Linked DNA regions of Homo sapiens: region 2 is reported to be linked to region 1. The links are microRNA targets in miRTarBase. Many come from high-throughput screens and were not tested one by one. Region 1 holds a microRNA gene; the other region holds the end of a gene's coding sequence.
The links. Region 1 holds the annotated microRNA hsa-miR-4765 (UGAGUGAUUGAUAGCUAUGUUC, at 1,222-1,243, opposite strand). A microRNA usually pairs through its seed, bases 2 to 8, with sites in the 3' UTR of a target mRNA and lowers its output. Matches are read on the target gene's strand: a 7mer-m8 pairs with bases 2 to 8, a 7mer-A1 pairs with bases 2 to 7 and ends in A, and an 8mer does both.

Region 2: miRTarBase lists SRM as a target of hsa-miR-4765. Seed matches in the 3' UTR shown: 7mer-A1 at 3,412-3,418.

Annotation. Positions count from the first base shown.
Region 1 is chr2:32,632,393-32,636,542 of GRCh38, reverse strand. It overlaps MIR4765 (microRNA 4765), which reads right to left and starts at 1,288; the gene lies at 1,212-1,288. It overlaps TTC27 (tetratricopeptide repeat domain 27), which reads right to left. Exons shown (of 20, transcript NM_017735.5): 3 at 2,538-2,667.
Region 2 is chr1:11,051,202-11,055,201 of GRCh38, forward strand. It overlaps SRM (spermidine synthase), which reads right to left. Exons shown (of 8, transcript NM_003132.3): 7 at 3,761-3,883; 8 at 3,388-3,684. The coding sequence ends at 3,664. Among named protein-coding and RNA genes, the nearest start is that of MASP2, 6.0 kb to the left of the region's middle. RefSeq lists enhancers at 867-946, 1,554-1,633, 1,964-2,213.

The DNA.
Region 1 (4,150 bases):
GACCAAATTGGCACAAGAAATGTGAATTAAGGCCAGGCGCAGTGGCTCACACCATAATCCTAACACTTTGGGAGGCCGAGGCGGGTGGATCACCTGAGGTCAGGAGTTTGAGACCACCCTGGCCAACATGGTGAAACCCCGTCTCTACTAAAAATACAAAAATTAGCCGGGCGTGGTGGTGAGCACCTGTAGTCCCAGCTGCTTGGGAGGCTGAGGTGGGAGAATCATTTGAACCCGGGAGGCAGAGACTGCAGTGAGCCGAGATCGCACCACTGCACTCCAGCCTGGGCGACAGAGTGAGACTCCGTCTCAAAACAAAAAAAAAGAAATGCGAATTAAGTACCATTCAAACCACACATCAGTGTTCAGGAGATATTTATGGCTTTGGCTGTTTGGTGGATTTCTAATCTATACTATAGGGCCATAGAAGCCAGAAACTGATTCATACATAATAAGAGAGGGAATGAGATGTTTCCTAAGTACATTTCTAGATAACTGAAGCTTATCTCTTTAACTGCTACAATCATTTAGGGTTTGGGGTTTTTTTACTCCCATTTTGGATGAAAACCTCTGTAGAATATAAATTATAAATTCCCTTCATAGACATAAGACACAAAACATCTTTTAACCTTTCAGTTATAATTAGGATCAGCATTATGGATTAAAATTACTCTAATGAAGTATATATAGTGACTCACTAAGCTGATATGCAAAGAGTTAATTATTGTGGTTTTCACTTTATGCTTGTTTTTGCACTTCTTCTCTTTCTACCCCCCCATCAAATTATTAACACATATCTCTAATAACTCTATTCCACATTTACTTGCTACACCCAATTCTTTTTCTTTTTTCTTTTTTTGAAATGGAGTCTCACTCTGTCACCCAGGCTGGAGTGCAGTGGCGTGATCTTGGCTCACTGCAACCTCCGCCTCCCGGGTTCAAGCAATTGTCCTGCCTCAGCCTCCTGAGTAGCTGGGATTACAAGCGTGCACCACCACACCCGGCTAATTTTTGTATTTTTAGTAAGACGGAGTTTCACCATGTTGATCAGGCTGGTCTTGAACTCCTGACCTCGTGAACCGCCCGCCTTGGCCTTCCAAAGTGCTGGGATTACAGGCATGAGCCACTGTGCCCGGCCTACTTGCTACACCTAATTCTGAGAAACCAGGTAACACTAGGTCTGTTTTGCTGCACGAGTTCTGGATACAATTTGGTGATTTTGAACATAGCTATCAATCACTCAGCTTTTTCCAGGCTGAGTGGTGGATAGCTACGTTCAAAATCACCAAAGTGGCTGGATAAATCAAAGTTCTTACTTTGATTTAAACCATACTTCTTTTGTAGATCATCTCATACTAGCCAGACCCTCTATATAGGAGCTCAAGATTCCTGAGGAACTCAAACTGCAAGCTCTATTGGCGACACACTGGCACAGATCGATAATATTATCTTCACAATGGATAATAATCACCATGAAGCAATGCTGTGCCAGAAACTTTAATAAAGTATTTGTAATTTAAAGCCACCCCTGGGAGCAAACCACTCCTGGGAGCCATTCTTAAGTACAGTATCAAAACTTACCTGCAAGCCGGGAATGGTGGCTCACGCCTGTAAACCCAGCACTTTGGGAGGCTGAGGTGGGAGGATCACTTAAGGTCAGGAGTTTGGGACCAGCCTGGCCAACATGGAGAAACCCCACATCTAGTAAAAATACAAAAATTAGCCAAGTGTGGTAGCACACGCCTGTAATCCCAGCTACTAGGGAGGCTGAAGCAGAAGAATTGCTTGAACCCATGGGGCAGAGGTTGCAGTGAGCTGAGATCGCGCCATTGTACTCCAGCCTGGGTGACAGAGCAAGACTCTGTCTCAAAAAAAATTAATTAATTAATTAGTTAAAAACTTACCTGAAATAAAATTAAACAGATTTCCAGATTTGCTGCTTTGCCATTAAAGATCTTTATGTACAGCGCTCACACCTATAATCCTAGCACTTTGGGAGGCTGAGGCAGGCAGACCACTTGAGCCCAGGAGTTTCAGACCAGCCTGGGCAACATGGCAAAACTCCATCTCTACAAAAAAATTAGCTGGACATGTTGGCATGCAACTGTAGTCCCAACTACTTGGGAGGCTGAGGTGGGAAGATCGCCTGAGCCTGAGTAGGTTGAGGGTGCAGTGAGCTGTAATCCAGCCACTGTACAACAGCCTGGATGACTGAGTGAGATACCATCTCAAAAAAAAAAAATCTTTATGTAACTGAGGTGATACAACCAACTAAACAACTGGTGCAGCTGTCTGTACTTTCATTAAAAAACACAGCTAACACAGCTCCATAAAATGGAGTGTGTATGAAGAGGAGTTTGACAAAGGAACTTCTGGAAATCTGTGAAAATCTGATCAATGAACAAGCATTCTTAGTACTTTTGTGCAAACCATAAAGTCATGTTTCTTTCCTACTATGAGTTCCAGTTTATAAAGACCTGCTTATAAAAAATAAATAACATAATAATAATTACATACAACATTTTCAAGAAGCATACCTCACTGAATTGCTGGAACAAAACAGATGACAAAAAGTCCTGAGGGTGTAAGTCAACAGGGGGCCCCGTCCAGTTGCTCTGAACAAAAAGTTGCAAACTGCTCACACCAAGTAGAAATATCAACTGTTGTCTGCATATAAGAATGGTTAAAGAAATAAATATGAACTACTATCACTGTATAATCTCAAACACACTATTCCATTTCAGTTTTATTAAGAAAATAATATCTATCAACATTTATTGAGACTATCCTAGAGTATTACCAAAAAAAAAAATTTCTAAAACTTAAAACAATTTAGGTTAGCTAGGCACAGTGGTTCATGCCTGTAATTCCAGCACTTTGGAAGGCCACGGTAGGAGGATCATTTGAACCCAGGAGTTCAAAACCAGCCTGAGAAACATAGTGAGACCCTGTCTCTACAAAAAAATTAAAAGTTAGCCGGCATGGTGGTACATCCCAGCTACTCAAGAGGCTGATGCATGAGGATTGCTTGCAGCCCAGGAGTTTGAGGCTGTAGTAAGCTTTGATCATAGCACTGTACTCCAGCCTAGATGATAAAGCGAGACCCTGTCTCTCTTAAAAAAAAAAGAAATTAGGTCTACAATATCCAATATTATAGCCACGAGCCAAACATGGTTTAAATTTGCATTAGTTAAAATTAATAAAATTTATAATTCAGTTCCTTAGTCATACTTTCCATATTTCAAGTGCTCAATAGTTAAGTGTGGCTAGTGGCTACCATGTGGGCAATGAAGATAGAGAGCACTTCTATCTCCACGGAAAATTATCTTGAACGGTGTTGATTTAGGTTCTGATCAGACATCTATAAGTTTTTCTTGCACTCCCTTTAACAGCTCTGATGTTGCAAGATGTATAGAAAACTGACTTTATACAAAAGAAAAGTGATGATATAAAGTTGTTGCTAATTGTTTACCAATCCCATACCACCAAATGCTAGAACAACAACAACAACAAAACATATAGATATTTTAGTGAAAACTCTATTTTTCAGTCTTGCTGTGATGTGAGACAGGGATAGGCAAACTTTTTCTAAATATGAAATATTTTAGGCTTTGCATATCATGTTTGTTTTTTTCCAACCCTTTAAAAATGTAAAACCCATTAATTCTTAGCCACTTAGTTAGCCTGCCAGCCATAATGTGCCAAACCCTAAATTAGGATCTAAATAGGTACAGATCCAACTCTAGCAAATAACAGCCAGGGAATCCTGGAGTTTCATTCTGAAGAGAAAGTATTAGTAATCACTTTTTTCCCCACAGCCCCTAGGCCCTTCCTTAAAAGGAAGAGTCTTTCAGAAAAAGAAAAAAAAAAATCAAACATACAAGCCTATGGTAGCAAAAATATAAAACTCTGGATGCAATGCAAATAAGCAGCATTAGAGAAAAAAGATAACAAAAGAGCTGGTATGCAATCAGAAGTTTGGAAATTTGGAGAAAACAGCCTTAATAAACTGTCCTAATCAAAAAACAAAATCCATAAGGTGAACTGAAAATACACTTTAACTTTCAAATGTCTGAAAATGAGTCAACTGAAATGTCTCTTTTTAGCTTTATGTGACAAGATAGAAATCTGGTATATCAGTGAATAATGC
Region 2 (4,000 bases), not on the chromosome of region 1:
TTTTTTCTTTTGCTTTTTCCTTTTATTTTCTTTAACTGGTTTTTTTCTTTTTTTTCCTTTTTTTTTTTAAGACAGAGTCTTGCTCTGTCACCCAGGCTGGAGCGCAGTGGCGCGATCTCGGCTCACTGTAACTGTAACCGCCCAAGGGGTTCACCTTGCCAGCTGTCTAGACAGAGCTGATTCATCAAGACAGGGGAATTGCAATAGAGAAAGAGTAATTCACGCAGAGCTGGCTGTGCGGGAGACCAGAATTTTACTATTACTCAAATCAGTCTCCCCGAACATTCGGGGAGTAGAGTTTTTAAGGATAACCTGGTGGGTAGGGGGAAGCCAGTGAGCCAGGAGTGCTGACTGGTCAGAGATGAAATCACAGGCAGTCGGAGTCAGAGCTGTTTTCTTGCACTGAGTCCTGGGTGGGGGTCACAAGATCAGATGAGCCCGTTTATCCATCTGGGTGGTGCCGGCTGATCCATCAAGGCAGGATCTGCAAAATATCTCAAGCACTGATCTTAGGAGCAGTTTAGGGAGGGTGGGAATCTCGTAGCCTCCAGCTGCATGACTCTAAACCATAATTTCTAATCTTGTGGCTAATGTTAATCCTACAAAGACAGTCTAGTCCCCAGGCAAGAACATCTGCTTTGAGAAAGGGCTGTGACCGTCTTTGTTTAAACTATAAACTAAATTTCTCCCAACGTTAGTTCAGCCTACGCCCAGGAATGAAGAAGGACAGCTTGGAGGCTAGAAGCAAGATGGAGTTGGCTAAGTTAGGTCTCTTTCACTGTCTCAGTCATAATTTGGCAAAGGCAGTTTCACAACTTCCGCTTCCTGGGTTTAAGTGATTCCCCTGCCTCAGCCTTCCGAGTAGCTGGGGTTATAGACGTGCGCCACCACACCAGGATAATGCTTGTGTTTTTAGTAGAGACGAGGTTTTGCCATGTTGCCCTCCCAACACTCCTGGCCTCAAGTGATCTGCGCACCTCGGCCTCCCAATGTGCTGGGATTACAGGCATGAGCCACCACCCGGGGCTGCGCTCATTGTTCATGAATTTGTACAGCTTCATCTCCAGAGCCCTCCTGATCCTTTCCTGGCAGTCATTGGGTGGGGTGAAAGTCCCAACCCTTCAGTCTTTAGGTCTTACTTACCAGCCCCACCCTGAGGCTCCCCCGGGGCTCTACCCTAGACCACTGCATTAGCATAAACTCGGGAGTTCTCTAACAGAGCATATAATGAACGACAAGACACGCCTACCGATCAGGAATTTCCAAAGGTGTTAGCGGCTCCGTGACAGGAACTGGGGACAAACACCAAATCGATTTCTTCTTCTACTACAGAAGATAAACCCCAAATAATCAGCTCCAAGAGGGAAAGGGGCTGCGGGAGGAGGACTGTGATTTTTCTTCTGACAAGCCGCACGGACCCATGAATCCTTAAGCCAGGGGCCTGGCTAATTATCATAAATCAAATTTTGAAAAGTCTAGATAGGATTGATGTTATTCCCCATGCCACACTGGGCCTGTTTGTGGCCCAAAGATTTCTGGGACGCTGGGGGACCCAGGTTGTGTCCTCATCAAGGCTGTTTCTGTTTCAGCAGATCATCCTGGGCTGCATCGCACCCACCCAGTCGTGGGGCTCAGGCTTGCCCCCATCCCTGGTGCATGCCTCTTCGCGGCGGCCAGGTGTGTGTATAGACTATAGGCTGGGGAGGCGCAGGATCTACGCTGCCGGCAACTTCATCTTCCTGCAGCTGCTTCCCAGATCTCCTGCCTCCCAGATGGCCCCGGCTGTTTCCACAACCTGGTCCACCCTCCCTTCTCTCGGGCCGGCACTGGTTGAGGGCTGCGTCGCACGTGCTTCTCACCAAAGCTTCCTAACAGGGACGGTGTGCTCCCCCTCTGACATCGGGGTAACCGGCAGAGGGCCTGCGTGGCTGCAGGTCACAGAGCTGAGGGAGGCAGAGTTGAGATTGAGATCTGGACCGATTCCAGAGCCCTTGGGGAAAGGCCCTCACACTTAGGGGGTCACGGGATCGTCCCTCTAAGGGGGCAGCATTCCCTGCCTGGATCTTGGCCAGGGAGTAGATGTCAGAGAGACCATCCATGCCGGGACCTCCAGAGTGCCTGGCCTGAGATGCAGGAGACCCTGGGGTGAGCAGGGTGGAGTGGCGTCGGACGGTGGCTGCTGATTGGCTGTGTGTCCTTAGGCACATCGCCTTGCCTCTGTGCAGCAGGAACAATGCCTGGCGGGCAGGTGGTTGTGAAGGTTAAATGAAAGTGCCTGGCCCACCCAGCTGCAGCCTGGCCTGTCAGGCTCCAGAAATAGCCCCTGCCAACCCACCTGAACGCCAGCTGCTCCTCTCGGGCCTTCCCTGAGACTATGAAGGCCCGGGGGCAGACGCCAGCTCCCCAGACTGATTTGAAAGGTCAGGGTGGCCTGGAGAAGTTAGCCTGAGGTCAGATCTGCTGATGGGCCAAAGGTCTGAAGGTGCTCAGTCTGGTGAATTCACAGGGGTGGGGAGTGGGGGGCAGGTGGAGACTGGAGGGCTATGACTGGCCTGAAGCCAGAGTTGATGGCGAAACTGAATCCCCCTTACTCTGGTGTCCCAGAAAACATACCCGGGTGAGTTAGGGCTCCAAGGTGGCTGCCTCGGCTGGGAGTGGGGCCTCCCTCCCTGATGCGTCCGCTAGCCCAGCCCCTGCCCAGGGTGGGGAAAGGGGTTGGCAACTCAGGCCCATGCAAAGAGGGTTCCTTTCCTGTCCTCCCACCACCGTTGGGTCCTGGAAGGCGGGAGTTCAGCACCTTGGAGAGGGGACAGCCCTGGTCCTCGCAGTCCCTGGTGGGGTGCCCACACTTGCTTTCTCAATTTGTCCACATAGGGGGCGGGGCATGGTGGGAATTTGAACCCAAGTCTGAATGCCGGGTGGAGTCAGGGCACAGTCACTGGGCCAGTGTTAAGCTCCTGATGTGCTTAAAAAGGCCGAAGGTAACCAGCCCCGCCACCCCTTCCTGTATTTGCCCTGGAGTACCTGGATGGGACCTGACTTACACCTGTGAGTGTCCCCAATTTTTCTGAGAATGCTCCCGGGCAGCCCCACCCTGATCTCACCCACCCCACTGCCCTGGGGGGCTGTCACCAGTGGCCTTGTGAAGGGCTTGGTAAAAGGACAGCTAAGTCAGCTTCCCAGGACAGCTCTGGGTCCCACGTGACGACTGCGGTGACCCTCTGTGCCCCAGGCTATCCACGATGGCCCGCCTGCAGCCTCAGCCCTGCAGCAGACACTTGGGGGTCAGCCAGCAAGGCCTCTGCAGACCCTCACCCCAGAGGCACCCAATGGTGAATGTGGCCCTGCCTGGGCCCAGCCAAGGTCAGGAGACACAGGACTCCAATCTTTGCTATAAATACACGTGTTTGGTGAGTGAGGGGCAACAGAAGGCAGAGAGATGGCGCTGTACACAGCTGGTATAGGCTTGGAGGTGGAACGCCAGAGAGACAGACACACAGACAGTCCGCCCAGCAGGGCAGGCCGGGCAGCATTCTGGGGCTTGTAACACTTGGTTGGTGGGCGAGAGCCAGCAGGAGGTCCGGCCCGGGGCTGGAGGGGCCGAGGCACCCCGCAGGCTCCAAGGTCCGAGGTCCTGGGTGGCATCAGTGGTGGCGCCTGGGCTCAGCTCACATCATTCAGGGCCTGGAGGGACATGAGGCCAGTCAGGAGGGCGCTCTGGGTCCCTGGGTCCCACCACCCAGCCCCGCAGGCCACCCACCTTGCGGGCAAACTCGGGCAGCACAAAGGCGGCGCGGTGCACGTCGGAGTTGTAGTACTTCAGCTGCATCTGCGCCACCTGCTGCTGTGTCAGCGGCTGCACCGGCTCCTGGAAGTTCGTGCTCTGGGGACCGGGCCAGGGGCACATCAGGGGGGGCACTTTTTTTTTTTTTTTTTTGAGACGGAGTCTCACTGTTGCCACGCTGGAGTGCAGTGGCGTCATCTCAGCTCACTGCAACCT